Homo sapiens: one gene and its partners. The protein of the gene in region 3 purifies or fractionates together with the protein of the main gene of each other region. This does not show direct contact. Each region holds a gene or a part of one and is shown on either strand. Other genes may lie near its edges.

Region 1 (3,500 bases), on a different chromosome or scaffold from region 3:
AGGAAGGCAGCCCGGAAACTTACTCAGGGACTGGAAGCTCAGATCTCAGATTAACCATCTATCATAAATAACCCAGAGTAGATAATCCATGTTCAGAGAAGTGAGTTTACTGTACAGAAATTTCAGCACTTTTGATATCTTTTCACATACTGTTCTGCAACTGGCTATCCCTGTTCTTGGATGATCTTAATGTTATTATTATAGGTTGTCAAAATCTGTCACCAGTAAATGCTTTGTTCTTCAGTTTCCAATTTGCATGGGGTGTGTGAGGAGGACTTCAGGGTATAGGCTGGCTTTTCTATCTTGATTTTTTGCCCTCTGGCCTTTGACAGTGCTTCATGCTGGGCTGTTTTTCTCCATAATTATATTTTTTAAGCCACTGTATTGAGATATGATTGACATACAAAAAGCTGTGCATACATAATAATTTAATCATATTTTAAGTGATGATTTTATCCAAAGCTTGAATGTGCAATGACCAAAATAAAGTTAAAGGAAAGGTGGGTTTGGGAAGCACAGTCACTGTATTGTCGCTCCTCTTTCAGGTCGGAGTTCAGGTTTTCACCAAGAGACCTTTGGATGAACAGCAGAAGAACAGTTTTAATCCAGACGACATTATCAATTGCCTTAAAAAATACCCTAAAGCCCTTGTGAAGTATCTGGAACATCTTGTGATAGACAAGAGACTGCAGGTGAGCACTGCAGAAGTTAGACTAAAGAGTGTGGGCTGGAGAGACGGAATTGAACTAGAACACTTTTTGGCATGTGATTCTGTGTAATGTCTGTTCCCTGGGTGATCCATCCGTACTTGTTGATGGTCTGATGGCGGCCTTGAGGCTTGCGGAAAGAGACCTGGAGCAATAGGTAGCTTTATTTTTTTCTCCGTCCGTCTCACACCCACTCAGCTTTTATTTTTCCTCTCTTTTCCTTCTTTGTTATTATCCTTAAAGGAAATAAAGGGAGCTATACCTTTTTGTAGGTTATCTAAATTCTGTGGCCCTTACTTCTTGAAATAAGAGGTGACATTTTGTTCTATTCCCCATAGATGGTAAACTCATCTCAGTATCATGGTTTCTGAGAGGGTTTCGATCCAGCAAGTGAGCATCTGCCCAGCTCATGTCAGTGCAGCCGCGGTCTCCAAGCCCTGGCTGACAGGGGAGAGCTTTGACTTTCCCACTTGAAAACACTGTCTGTCTGCTTGGCTCCCCCTGTTTCCTGCAGAAAGAAGAGTATCACACCCACTTAGCTGTGCTGTACCTGGAAGAGGTGCTGCTGCAGAGGGCCTCCGCCAGTGGCAAGGGTGCAGAGGCCACCGAGACGCAGGCCAAGCTGCGGCGGCTGCTCCAGAAATCTGATTTATACCGAGTCCACTTTCTTCTCGGTGAGGATGATCTCAGTATTGTCTCCCTTTGGAAAAAACTCATATCAAGCGGGTGGGAGGAAGCAGAGAGAAGGGCTTTGGCACAGCTGCTGGTTGATTGCACAGGGTGATTCTTTGAGCCTCTTTTTTTAAAAAGATTTTTTTAAATGAAGACAGGGTGTCGCTTTGTCACCCAGGCTGGTCTCAAACTCATGGCCTCAAGTGATCTTCCTGCTTCTGCCTCCTAAGGTGCTGGGATTATAGGCGTGAGCCACCACACTCAGCCCTTGAGCCTCTTTTGACAGAGTCAGCCTCCTTGCAGGGAGAAATAAGGCTTCTCGTGCCTCTAGAGATGGACCGTGCCTCTAGATGGACGGTGCCCTTTGATTGATGATGTTGGTGCTGCCCTGGTAGACTTTAGACGTCTGTGTGTCTCTTGACACACAGTGTCTTTATTCAATGTCAAAGCACTGAGTCATAGTTCCCTCTGACGGCTTCAGTCTCTGATCAAGGCTTTGCAGTAGGCACTGCCCCCAGCGACCCATTCCCGAGCTGCTCAAGGCTCAGGTCCCTCGAGCTCTAAGCAAGAAGGTTATGCAGGTGTCTTGGAGGGCATTTGGGTTTCTGTTCCTCAGGGGTACAGAGGCCACAGTTTCTGTATTGTGTAAAGTTCCACAGCGCAGCATGGTGCTTGCAACTGGTAGAATTAACTAGTTTCTTGCCACATTAAGAATTTCTGCATTTATACTCACTGGGGTTAGTGATGTGTTTTTCTTTAATGGCCTTTAATACCATTTTTTGACCAATAACAAAGCATATCTAACACACGTGTTGTCTCCATAAAGCACATCACAACCTTCCAGAGCTTAGGAGCGCTAGGCAGCACTTCAGCACTACACTGAAATCACCAACAAGAAGCACCAAAATGCAAAAAAGCATGGCAATAAATAGCCCGTGAAAAGGAAACGTGTAGCTAGTACGACAGCTGAAGCAAGGAAGGAGGGCGCTCCTTCTTTGGCCTCAGCTCTGCATCAGGCTCTGTGCTTGTCGTAAATGACCTTGAAGCTGCTGCGAGTGTTGATTGGGAGGTTACAAATAAATTTCAGCGAGTAGATGACTTTGTAAATACAGAATCCACAAATAATGAGGATTGACTAGATATGCCCAGCATAGGTTGAAACGCTGAGGCTGCCTTATGACACAGTTTCCACAACAACCCTGTGAAGTGAGGCCTGTTTTTCCTCCATTTTTACAGAAGAGTGCACTGAAGCCCAGAGAGGTTACCCCGCTTGCCACAGGTCACACAGCCCACGAGCAGTAGAGCCAGAACACAGGTGTGGGTTGGTATTTCATGAAACCAGCAAACACTAGTTCTGGCTTGTACCTGCACCTACATTAGGACTTTCTGTGGCGATCCGCTGTGCAATCTCTGTTCACTCACAGCCACCGTCCCTGACTGATCAGTGCCAGGGTGTCCCAGCTATTGAATTTTTACTCACTCCTGACTTATTCTTTTTGCTTTACAAATCTCCTTATAAAACTCTCAGGCCAGCCACAAGTGTGTGGTTCAATGTTTGCATTCCGCCAGCTTTTCTGAGTATGTAGAGTGTGTCACTGTGCATTGAGGATACAAAGATGGATGAGACTTGGTCCTGGTCCTCAGAGACTCAGAGTTTAATTGGAATGCAGTTAAGGGCAGGTACAGTTCTAGAAGGGCCGAGGAACCCACGAGCTGTGCCTTGGGGTGGAGGGGTCAGAGGCAGCCTCCCGGAAGAGGCCCTATATGAGCAGTCATTAGGTATAAGCCTGGGCTTGCAGGTAGCACAGGGGAGCTTTCAGGCAATGGGGGTATCCCCCGCAGCACTGTGGGAGGAGCACTGGAAATCCAAACACTGATTTTGTATCCCTTCTTAGTTAGATGACTTGGGGAAATGTCAGTCTAGGGAAGTTGTAAAAACGATTCCAGCCCAACCTATCCACTCGGGGTGGCTGTGGGAGTCAAATATAAATGAGATGATAGATGTGGAAGTGTAAATCACCACAGTGATCTTTTCTTAACTGTCTTTGTACCTCACCCAGGGTCTTAACTATGGCAGCCACTTAGTAATTATTTGTTGGCCTTCCACTGTGAGGATGAAGG
Region 2 (3,500 bases), on a different chromosome or scaffold from region 3:
AGTAAATTTCATTAAATAAAATGTGATGCTTTATCTTGAGTTTTTATACAAGTAATACTTTTTAAAATAAAAATTATCTCCCCAAATACAAAAATATATAGAATAAAAAATAACATCAGTCCCTTTATAATAATTTAATTTTTAATTGTTTGCCCTTGTACTGTTTTGCCACTGTAATATATCCTTGGAAAAAAAGTTTTTTAGGGAACGAGAAGTGGTAGAAATGAAGGTTTTCCTACCTTAAAGAAAAGCCTCACTCTTAAACCAAGAATGGTTTAGCCTCAGTTTTGGTGAGCTTTTCAGTTGTATTCTTGATATATAATTTTTTGGTGAATAGATTCCTTCTCTTACTCCAAAACAGACTTTATGTATTGGATACCAAGTAAATAGTAGGTTTAAGTAAAAAAAGAAAAGAGACAATGTTTTTGGCATACCAGAATAAGTCTAATATATTGGTCTCTGTTCTGTTACCTGTAATTTAGGGTAAGACATTGAAAGAATTGGCCCAAGGCAATATGTAGTCTCTGATCCAAGAATTATTCTTAAAACTTATTTTTTTTTCCCCAGAGGAGAAGCCAAAACCAGATCCAGTGTTAAAGTCTCCTTCCCCAGTCCTTAGGCTAGTCCTCAGTGGAGAGAAGAAAGAACAAGAAGGCCAGACATCTGAAACTACTGCAATAGTATCCATAGCAGAGCTTCCTCTGCCTCCATCACCTACCACTGTTTCTTCTGTTGCTCGAAGTACAATTGCAGCCCCCACCTCTTCTGCTCTTAGTAGCCAACCAATATTCACCACTGCTATAGATGACAGATGTGAACTCTCATCCCCAAGAGAAGACACAATTCCTATACCCAGCCTCACATCTTGCACAGAAACATCAGACCCTTTACCAACAAATGAAAATGATGATGATATATGCAAGAAACCCTGTAGTGTAGCACCTAATGATATTCCACTGGTTTCTAGTACTAACCTAATTAATGAAATAAATGGAGTTAGCGAAAAATTATCAGCCACGGAGAGCATTGTGGAAATAGTAAAACAGGAAGTATTGCCATTGACTCTTGAATTGGAGATTCTCGAAAATCCCCCAGAAGAAATGAAACTGGAGTGTATCCCAGCTCCCATCACCCCTTCCACAGTTCCTTCCTTTCCTCCAACTCCTCCAACTCCTCCAGCTTCTCCTCCTCACACTCCAGTCATTGTTCCTGCTGCTGCCACTACTGTTAGTTCTCCGAGTGCTGCCATCACAGTCCAGAGAGTCCTAGAGGAGGACGAGAGCATAAGAACTTGCCTTAGTGAAGATGCAAAAGAGATTCAGAACAAAATAGAGGTAGAAGCAGATGGGCAAACAGAAGAGATTTTGGATTCTCAAAACTTAAATTCAAGAAGGAGCCCTGTCCCAGGTAAGCCATTCTGCCATTAATCTCGTGCTTGCTGAACATGAAGAAGAGGCAGTGTTTGAGTTATTTTTTAATTGGCTACTTTCCTTGACTTCCAGAAACATCGAATGAATGCTGAAATTCCTAGTCTGGTTTCTTCAGTGGTGTGTTTGTGTTTTAGTACAACCTGCAAAAGAGTTACTCCATTGTCTAAAAATGCAAATGAGAATTTCCAAATATACAAAATGCCTCCAAGGTATATGTCACGAAACATGTTGGGTTTTGTTGTTGTTGTTGTTGCTATTGCCTCATTCATATGAATTGGTTTCTCAATGCTTAATTTTGCTGCTTTGGGGCTAGAAAACAAAAAACCAGGATGGTCTATAGTCCCTAATTCTGTCTTCCTAGAATTTTAAAACCCAGTCAATCCTAAAGGAACTCTTCTATGCATGACCAGTTTTTAAATCTTGGATGTAGGAAGATAGCAATCAGAACATCAAAGGTTTATAACTATTTTTGAAAATATAATGCTGTTGTTGATTCACTTGCAGGTAAGCTTAACGTTCTCTCACTTTGCCTTTTGAAACAGTTTTATTTTTTGTGTACATTTTTACATGGTCATTAATATCCTTGGAGTATTATATTCTTCCCAGTTCAAATTATTTCTTTTTAATGTAGCATCACCTGGGACCTTAGGAACTAACCATTGGGTTATTGTAAGTTTAATCAAAAGTTATCTGAGGCTTATCAGCTATTCTAGGATAAGTTAGCCCATAGGAATATTGAAGTTTTGGCTTTGAACAATTCAGCACAGCCTATCTTCTGCAACATTGCCCTATGCTATATAATTTCCTTTCTCTGTGCCTGTCAGATTAAGTAATGCGTATGTAAATTGGGCTTTTTGATAAATGAGTGCTCCTCCAGCAGTTGATCCTTGACATGCAGTGAATAGGTTTTGGTCACCATCATCCTCAGTATTTTTGTCTATTTTGAGGTGTATAATAAGGAAATTTGACAAACCCAAAAGCTGATCCCTACTTTTGAGATGTGGCTTTTCTACCCAGCTCAGTTCTTGAGACAATTTCCTCATCAGTGTCTGTAAGAGGTGTCTGGCCTTTTGGAACTGCAGAACATCTTGTAGAACACCATGAGCCAGCACAGGAAAGAAAACAATGCAAGGCAATTGGAACAGTGAGAAATTTTTCATAAATCTTTGTAAATTACCTGTTTCCTCAACTATCTGGCTTCCATTGACATCAGTATTCATAGTGCCATCACTGTTTTAGGAAACTTGTTCCTTGGTGGAGAGATGACCTTAGACCTTGTTTTGTCAGTTACCCTTTAGAAAAACAGCCTTGGGGCCGGGTGCAGTGGCTCATGCCTGTAATCCCTGCACTTTGGGAGGCCGAGGTAGGTGGATTGCCTGAGCTCAGGAGTTCGAGACCAGCCTTGGCAACACAGTGAAACCCCATCTCCACTGACATACAAAAAAAATAGCCAGGCATGGCAGTGTGGGCCTGTAGTCCCAGCTACTCGGGAGGCTGAGGCAGGAGAATTGCTTGAACCTGGGAGGCAGAGGTTGCAGTGAGCCAAGATCGTGCCGCCACACTCCAGCCTGGGCAACAGATCGAGACTCCATCTCAAAAAAAAAAAAAAAAAAAAAAAAACTAAACAACTTGGTGTTGGTGTGGCTGTAGGTAAATGCCCTCCGAAGAAACACGTGTTTGTTGGAGAACAGTAATTTGTTTGACACTTCAATGTTCATTTTCATTTGTAGTGATACGATAGTTACAAAAATGAGAGAAACTAATGAACAAAAATGTTTTTAAAATGTAAAAGCAAAGAAAAACAAAACAATCATAGGAAATATAAGTTGAAGATACAAACCATACCTCAGAATTGAAATAAGTGTAAAGTGAAAAGACCATGCATCAAAATCATACTTCACTCATTTCTGACATATATTCTTTTTTTAAACATCAGTTTGCCACTTAGATGACCTGATATTGCAAGACAGTGCCCAGGGATGGATGGGCAAACAGAATTTTGGTTTAAATAATGTTCATACCATGGTACATTTGTTTGAAATGCAGATGCTCTCAATATTAGTATTGTGA
Region 3 (5,949 bases):
TTGCTGTGTCACCCAGGCCAGAGTGCAGTGGTGCCATCACAGTTCACTGCAGCCTTGACCTCCCGGGCTCAAGCAATCCTCCCACCTCAGCCACTTGAGTAGCTGAGACCTCAGATATGTGCCATCACACCCAGCTGATTTTTTAAAATTAATTTTTTGTAGAGATAGGGTCTCATATGTTGCCCATGCTGGTCTCAAACTACTGGGTTCAAATGATCCTCCTGCCTCAGCCTTCCAAAGTACTGGGATTACAGGCATGAGCCACCATGCCGGGCTGGGAGGCGGAATTTTGTTCAGTCTAAAGATAAGCTTTTTCATAGCTCTGGCTGTAGTGGGAGGGAGCAGAGGAGTGAATGATTGTCAGTTGGGAGGGTGCAGAGTGGGCTCCTGCCCTAGGGTGGAGGTGAGGGTGGCTTAGGTGAGACAACACAGAGGCCCTGTTCAGCCCCACGTCCCCTCCCTGTGCTCCCTCCTCCTCTCTCCTCTCCTGCAGGCGTGGGAGGTATCATCATTCAGCAGATTTCACCAGAGGCAGTGGAGGAGGCAGGTACCTGAGCCAGAATTCAGAATGTCTTATTCTCCACTTGACTCTGCCACTAACTTGTTGTGCAACTTTGGGCCTTTCCCCAGGCCTTCATTTTCTTTTCTTTTCTTTTTCTTTTTTTTTTTTTGAGGCGGAGTCTCGCTATGTTGCCCAGGCTGGAGTGCAGTGGTGCAGCATCATCTCGGCTCACTGCAAGCTCCACCTTCTGAGTTCACGCCATTCTACTGCCTCAGCCTCCCGAGTAGCCGGGACTGCAGGCGCCCACCACCACGCCCGGCTTATTTTTTGTATTTTTAGTAGAGACAGGGTTTCACCACGTTAGCCAAGATGGTCTCGATCTCCTGACCTCGTGATCCACCCGCCTGGGCTTCCCAAAGTGCTGGGATTACAGGCGTGAGCCACTGCGCCCGGCCATTTTCTTAAATATCTAATAAAAAATATATAGCAAATGCAGTTTGTAAACTATGACAATATGACCACGCAAAAGATTATTATCTTCCAAGACTGCTGGTCCAAGGAAAGGTCAGTAATAAAGTGGAAGCATTGTAGCTTATGGAATGACTGGTTAGATTTGGGAGAAGCCTTAGCAATAATCTAGAATCTGCATAGATAATACATCTGAGGATTGGGCTTTGTGGTTTACAAAGCATTTTTTTTCCTCTTTTGATCCCAGCCGCTTGTCTGGACTGATACAAAGCATTTTTATTAGTTTGTCTTATTCAATCCTCACACCACCTCAAATTTACAGAGGATATGGATCTGGTTAACTTGTATGACTATGTAACCTCATGTCAGTCCACAGCACTGCCTGGAGGTGGGTAGAGGTGGTCCTGGGCTGGAATCCCAGCCCCAGTGGGACCTTGAGCAAGTTACTTTAGCTGTCTGCACCTAAATTTCCTCACTGGCAAAACAGGAATACTGGTGGTTCACACCTGCAATTCCAGCACTTTGGGAGGCTGAGGTGGGAGGATTGCTTGAGTCCAGAAGTTCAAAACCAGACTGGGCAACATAGCAAGACCATCTCTACAAAAATTAAATAAATAAAACATTTACAAGGGTTGTGGTGAAGATTAAATGAGATCACTCACGAAAAAGCTCAGCAGACCCTGATGTGCAGTAGGTGCTCAATAAATGTTAGCCAGCAAAAAACAAACAAAAAAAAACTCAGCTAGGAAATTGCAGTACTGGGCTTCTGACTCCAACCTCAGTGTTCCTTGCCCCACATCAAGCTGTTTCACTTCAAATCCTCTCCATTTCACAATGGAGTCACCCCAGGTTGAAGGAGTGAACTGTGCTTTGGAGGGCTGCCCTAAGCAGGCAGCAAAGAGACAGCTTGGTCTCCAGTGACCTGAAAGAATTATTTATTGCCCTGAAGTCCAGTATACCAGTTGCCAAAGGGAAAAGCTTCCTTCCAACTGGCTCAGCAAGCTGACAGAGGAAGAGTCGGGTTCTTGCTGGGGCAGTCATGCAGAGCTGGGATGACAAGTAGAAGGCTGGCAGATCTGTCTCTGGGCAGATGGATCACCTGATACAGATGCTGGGGCCTGAGCCCTGGGATTGGCCCAAAACAGGGCTGTGTTGACCCAACAGCTGGGCATTGGCATCCTGTCAATCTGCCGAGAGCCTAGAAATAGTGCGGGGGCAGTCTGCTGGTCTCATTGTGTCAGAGGAAGCAACCATGCAGGTGCTAACCAAGCGTTACCCCAAGAACTGCCTGCTGACCGTCATGGACCGGTATGCAGCCGAGGTGCACAACATGGAGCAGGTGGTGATGATCCCCAGCCTTCTGCGGGACGTGCAGCTGAGTGGGCCTGGGGGCCAGGCCCAGGCTGAGGCCCCTGATCTCTACACCTACTTCACCATGCTCAAGGCCATCTGTGTGGATGTGGACCATGGGCTGCTGCCGCGGGAGGAGTGGCAGGCCAAGGTGGCAGGCAGCGAAGAGAATGGAACCGCAGAGACAGAGGAAGTCGAGGACGAGAGTGCCTCAGGAGAGCTGGACCTGGAAGCCCAGTTCCACCTGCACTTCTCCAGCCTCCATCACATCCTCATGCACCTCACCGAGAAAGCCCAGGAGGTGACAAGGAAATACCAGGAAATGACGGGACAAGTTTGGTAGACCTTGGACACTAGGGAAGGTAATGGTGGCCATGCTGGTGGGTGTGAGTCTACAAAGGGACATTCCAGGAGAGGAGAGGGGGCAGTGGTGCAACCCACTGGGAGAGGAACAGCCTGACTTTCAGACAGAGCCACTCTTGGGTCAGGGTATTGGGACCACAACCTAGGAGGGCCTAAGACTAGGCCTGTGTTACTATCCTTCTGACCTCAAATTGGCAATTGCAATGAAGTGATATGGAAACAGAGGGAAAAGTGGCCTGTGAGGGCATATCTCATATGCACATATATGTGTTTGTGCATGTGTGCATTTATTAGTATGTGAATGCTTGTAAATGTGTGAATTGAATGAGTGTGTTCTCATCAGTGACTTTGTTAAGAATTTAATTGAAGAGGGGCCAGGCGCGGTGGCTCACACCAAAGCACTTTGGGAGGCCGAGGCGGGCGGATCATGAGGCCAGGAGATTGAGACCATCCTGGCTAACATGGTGAAACCCAATCTCTACTAAAAATACAAAAAATTAGCTGGGCGTGGTGGTGGGTGCCTGTAGTCCCAGCTACTCGGGAGGCTGAGGCAGGAGAATGGCATGAACCTGGGAGGCAGAGGTTGCAGTGAGCTGAGATTGTGCCACTGCACTCCAGCCTAGGTGACAGAGGGAGACTCCATCTCAAAAAAAAAAAAAAAACTTACCTAAGGCATGCACATTGATTTAAGTGAACATTGTGAATTCCATTTGTGTGACAGTGTTTCCCAACATTTTTTCAAGTCACAGAACATGGAAAATTATTATATGGCACATGGGGATACATAGGTGAGGCTGCTTGCAGTACTGCTACAACAGGCTGGGGGTACTCTGACCATCCCAGGTTGGAACCCACCAAACGGGAAGCCGAGGGACCAGTCATGGCACTCTAATCCATTCCAGGCAAACTGGAGTATGCAGACATGCCTGTTGGGAAGCCCTGTTGTATGTACATATGAATATGTGTTCCAGTCTAAGCCTACATGTCTATGCACAGAGGGGCTGGGGTGGTGAGTGTGGATGAGCAGCAAGCTAGACAAGCAGGTGGTGGCAGAGGGTAGGAGGTGGGAAGGGGCCCTAGCATGGTCACCACTAGTTCACTCATGGATAAAGACTAGTATTAATAGAAATTGGACCACAGCACCTGCCAGTTTTGATTCTGTGCCACCTGCCAGCCCTGCTCCCACAAACTGGTCTCATTAGTTGTAAACAACATCCACGTCCATTGCAATCTCAAAACCACCTGATGCAGCTATGTAGGAAAAGATTCTCATCCCCAGTTTACTAGTATGGAAATTGAAGCCAGAGAGGTGAAGTGACTCACCCAAAGTCACACAGTAAGGAGACAAAAGTAAGACTGGCCTCAACTTTGAGCTGAGTGTTCTTTCCATCGTACCCACTGTCTGCCATTTTGTGTTATCTTCATAATCTGTGTGAAGGCTGCTCTGTAATTATGCGGAATAAACATGGGACCCCCAAACACAGAGCCTATGGAGAGCTCTGCTCCAGGCATTTTCTCAGCCATTTTTCCTTCTCCCGCTTCAAACCCAAACTGTCAACCTCAACCCTTCTTCCCTCTCCCGTTGAGGCTCCCTGAGTTGCCTCACAGAGGTTCTTCTTGAATTAGATGGGGCTGTGTCAACAGCTCTGGGTTCACGTTCTGATTCTATCACTAATGAGCTGTGGGGCCTTGGGCAAGCTAATTCATTTCTCTGGGTTTCAGCTTCTTCACTGAATAATAACAGTGGTTGTAAAACTAACAACTGGCATTTGAATAGTTTTAAGATCACTTTGCATATCCATTATCTAATGGAATTATCATCCCCCCCCACCTTTTTAAATTTTGAGACGGAGTCTCACCCTGTCCCCCAGGTTGGAGTGCAATGTGCAATCTCAGCTCACTGCCACCTCCACCTCCCAGGTTCAAGAGATTTTCCTCAGCTTCCAAAGTAGCTGGGATTACAGGCGTGTGCCACCACACCCAGCTAATTTTTTTAAAATCTTTAGTAGAGACCGGGTTTCACCATGTTGGCCAGGCTGGTCTTGAACTCCTGACCTCGTGATCCACCTGCCTCGGCCTCCCGAAGTGCTGGGATTACAGGCATGAGCCACCGCGCCCAGCCTATCATTCCCTTTTGCAGATGAGAAAACTGGAGGCCTGAGAAGTAAAATGAGTCCAAGTTTACTCAGTAAATAACAGCCAAGATGTGAACCCTGGCCTAATTAGTCTAATTCTTTTCCTCTACAGTGGTATTCCTTAGAGCCTTAGACTTTTGCAGAGTGGGCTCAAAGTGGGAACTGGGCATGGCAGAGTGGGTAGAAACCACACTCTGACTCACTCAGTTGCTTCAAAGGCCAGAGCAGCAACTCTACGCCATAACGTTTCAACACACCCTAACCTGATTTTCATTCAGAGGCAATATGGTATAGCAACAGTTAAAAATCTGGGCTCTTGTTCTGGCTCTTCCATTGACTTCTGTATTATCCTAGACAACTTTTTTTTTGAGATGGAGTCTCACCCTATTGCCAGGCTGGAGTGCAGTGGCGCGATCTCAGCTCACTGCAACCTCCACCTCCCGATTCAAGCAATTCTCCTGCCTCAGCCACCCGAGTAGTTGGGACTACAGGTGCACGCCACTACACCCAGCTAATTTTTTGTATTTTTAGTAGAGATGGGGTTTCACCATGTTGGCCAAGATGGTCTCAATCTCCTGACCTTGTGATCCTCCCCGCTCGGCTTCCCAAAGTGCTGGGATTACAGGCGTGAGCCACCGCACCCAACCTTTTTTTTTTTTTTGAGATGGAGTCTTGCTCTTGTCACCCAGGCTGGAGTGCAGTGGCGCCACCTTGGCTCACTACAACCTCTGCCTCCCAGATTCAAGCAAGTCTCCTGCCTCAGCCTCCCGAGTAGCTGGGATTACAGGCTCACGCCACCATGCCTGGCTAATTTTTGTACTTTTAGTAGAGACAGGGTTTCACCATGTTGGCCAGGCTGATCTCGAACTCCTGACCTCAAATGATCCACCCACCTTGGCCTCCCAAAGTGCTGGGATTACAGGCGTGAGCCACCACGCCCGGCCCTAGACAACTTATCTTACCTTTCTGTATCTGTTTCCCTGTTAGTAAAATATAGCAGAGAAATCAAATGAGTTATTCCAGCTCTGACAACCTAGGATTCTCCTTACAGTGCTGAGGCACTGCCAGTTTTCCAACAGCAACATCAGCATTGTTCTTCCTGCTTCAATGGGCATGTGACAGTATCTTGGT
Region 4 (2,441 bases), on a different chromosome or scaffold from region 3:
GGCTGAAGATTGTTTTGTATGATACTGCACAGCATCAGGCATTTTAAAGCAGATCTTTACTAAACAGGTTAATGAGCTAACAAGCAGGTTCTCTCGTCTTTGGGCTCTTTCCTTTCTGAGTTGCATATTCTATTTTCTTGTCCCCAAGTAGAGACTAGTACTACAAAAAGGGACCACATTTTTCAAGTATTTCTAAGTATAAAAAACAAAACAAAAATCTCTTAGGAAATGTCTAGACCTCCATTCTTGGATTCCCTTTCTTTCCTTTTATTTTAAAAAAGAACAGTACCCCTCTTTTAAGATGCTGTCTTACATTAATGAGCATCTAATGGAAAGAAGGTATGAGTTGCACTGAGGATTAGAATAGTGGTGCGTTAGTGGCATTATCTATAAATACACTCACCTAAATTGAAAGCTAAGAAGGAAATGTAAATATAATATATATTTATATTTGATGTAATATGGACATCTGCAGATTCTAATAAACAAGGACTATTGCTGATAGTAGGCTGTGACATACTGTCTTGTGAAATGGTTTCCTTGACAAAATTTAAGCTGAGCTTAAAAGCAAAAAACAAAAAGTACACAGAAATATTTATTAAAATGTAATACAGTTTATTGAACTTTCTAGGTATGGAGTTTGATGGACAGGGCTGCCTTTAATGAGTGTGAAGGTCACTAAGTCACTTAGACATCTCACCGTGGAAGTTTGTGAGCCTGCATTAGGAGATAGACTGATTACCATACATGACATAAAAAGGAACAGTGGATAGCTCATACTTTATGGTGGTTCTTCTCCTCCGAAATAATATACTGCAGAAATCCCAGACAGAGCTCCTTACAAACCTTTAATTGTAATATATTTTTGATGATTATTCACATTGAATGCACAGACCAAGAATTCAGTGAATGTCATTTTTTAAAAAACTAATTTGTATTGTCTGCTCTAGTGATACAAGTTTTACTAGTGATAAACTATTTTAATCAACCATACTATTCTTATGGAAAAAAATATCTATTTTGGCAGGTTTCTGTGCCTTTATTTCCCTCTTCTGAAAAAAAGTCTGTGTTTTCATAGTTTGGTTTGCATTGTATATCAATAATTAATCAGGAATGGGTTTTGGTGCCTGAAAAATTGGCCATGGAGGCACACCAAAGCTTCAAGCACAAGTCTTGTACATGGGCCATCACTGTCTGGTTTCACTTCGTGTGTTTCCTAAACACATTTAGCTGCTTTTTTAACAAACTCAGCCCCATACTTGAGTCCCTTGTTGTTGGGAGCATTTCCAGGCATCTTTTAAGGGAACTGTGACAAACAGCCTCGGGCAGATGAACACGGAGGCTCTCTGTTGTCTGTCTCTGAGATCTTTGTGTCTGGGAATGCCTAAAGATTTTATTTTTTTTTCTTTGTTTTTATTTTATTTTATTTTATTTTTTTGAGACAGAGTCTCACCCTGTTGCCCAGGCTGGAGTGCAATGGTGCGATCTTGGCTCACTGCAACCTCCACCTCCCAGTTCAAGTGATTCCCCTGCCTCAGCCTCGCGAGTAGCTAGGACTACAGGCGCATGTCACCAAGCCCGGCTAATTTTTGTATTTTTAGTAGAAACGGGGTTTCACCATGTTGGCCAGGATGATCCTCAATCTCCTGACCTCGTGATCCACCCGCCTTGGCCTCCCAAAGTGCGGGATTACAAGCGTGAACCACCCTGCCCAGCCAGAAACTAGATTTTCTTTATGCCTCCACCCCTTCTTATTCATTTACTTTACAATACCAAAATAACAAATTGCATAGGAGTGTGGGATGTGGTTTCTGCCTTCTAGAGAGAGATCAGAATTAAACTAGTACTATGAAATGTCCTTTTGAATGTTAGGTCAAGAAATCCATGTACAGAGTCGTGCACTTCATTGGCTGTAACTGTCAAACTTGCCTTGTATTAGAAGTTAAATCCCATCGTAAATACATCACGAGGCCAGCTGTGTGATTTCTGAGACCTAGATGAGAGTCCATTTACTTCAGCCTTTGATTCAGTAAATGTTAAGCAGCAGAAGACTTCGAATGGTTGAAATTCATTGTTACAGGATTTAACTCATAAACCAATGAGAGATTTTTTTTTTCTCTGCAATGGTTGCTAAGTCTATTCCATGTTAACACTGTGGAAATAAATATGAAGATGTGGACATTGCATCGGGGCTCTTTTCTGTGGAAGAGAAGGTGGTGGGATTGGGGTGAAGGGCTACACTGGAGGCAGGAGATAGGGCTGTGCTGTGTTGGAGCCGGGGCTGAGGGTAGACCCCCCAGAGATTTGACATCTGTGACACCTGTGAAATGGGTTCGGGTGCTCATGACTCCATAGCTGGCGGAGGAGCACAGCACAGCTGTTGCAGGGGCAGCTAAGGTTTCCTCTGAAAATCTGTCAGGAGCAAGGACTACTTTGGCATT

Evidence for each region. Proteins that work in one complex are often made in the same cells at the same time.
Region 1: the proteins of THRSP (region 3) and TGFBRAP1 purify together in Homo sapiens (affinity purification with mass spectrometry; one large-scale study listed by BioGRID and IntAct). This does not show direct contact.
Region 2: the proteins of THRSP (region 3) and EIF4G3 purify together in Homo sapiens (affinity purification with mass spectrometry; one large-scale study listed by BioGRID and IntAct). This does not show direct contact.
Region 4: the proteins of THRSP (region 3) and GAPVD1 purify together in Homo sapiens (affinity purification with mass spectrometry; one large-scale study listed by BioGRID and IntAct). This does not show direct contact.

The regions. Positions count from the first base shown.
Region 1 is NC_000002.12:105,270,736-105,274,235, reverse strand, and holds part of TGFBRAP1 (transforming growth factor-beta receptor-associated protein 1), read left to right. Parts: intron 1-545; coding exon 546-692; intron 693-1,221; coding exon 1,222-1,381; intron 1,382-3,500. UniProt on the Homo sapiens protein: Plays a role in the TGF-beta/activin signaling pathway. It associates with inactive heteromeric TGF-beta and activin receptor complexes, mainly through the type II receptor, and is released upon activation of signaling.
Region 2 is NC_000001.11:20,939,398-20,942,897, reverse strand, and holds part of EIF4G3 (eukaryotic translation initiation factor 4 gamma 3), read left to right. Parts: intron 1-567; coding exon 568-1,407; intron 1,408-1,502; coding exon of another isoform or gene 1,503-1,522; exon of another isoform or gene 1,523-1,654; intron 1,655-3,500. UniProt on the Homo sapiens protein: Component of the protein complex eIF4F, which is involved in the recognition of the mRNA cap, ATP-dependent unwinding of 5'-terminal secondary structure and recruitment of mRNA to the ribosome. Functional homolog of EIF4G1.
Region 3 is NC_000011.10:78,061,660-78,067,608, forward strand, and holds the start of THRSP (thyroid hormone-inducible hepatic protein), read left to right. Parts: upstream 1-2,201; 5' UTR 2,202-2,222; coding exon 2,223-2,663; 3' UTR 2,664-2,682; intron 2,683-5,949. UniProt on the Homo sapiens protein: Plays a role in the regulation of lipogenesis, especially in lactating mammary gland. Important for the biosynthesis of triglycerides with medium-length fatty acid chains.
Region 4 is NC_000009.12:125,362,826-125,365,266, forward strand, and holds part of GAPVD1 (GTPase-activating protein and VPS9 domain-containing protein 1), read left to right. Parts: 3' UTR 1-2,441. UniProt on the Homo sapiens protein: Acts both as a GTPase-activating protein (GAP) and a guanine nucleotide exchange factor (GEF), and participates in various processes such as endocytosis, insulin receptor internalization or LC2A4/GLUT4 trafficking.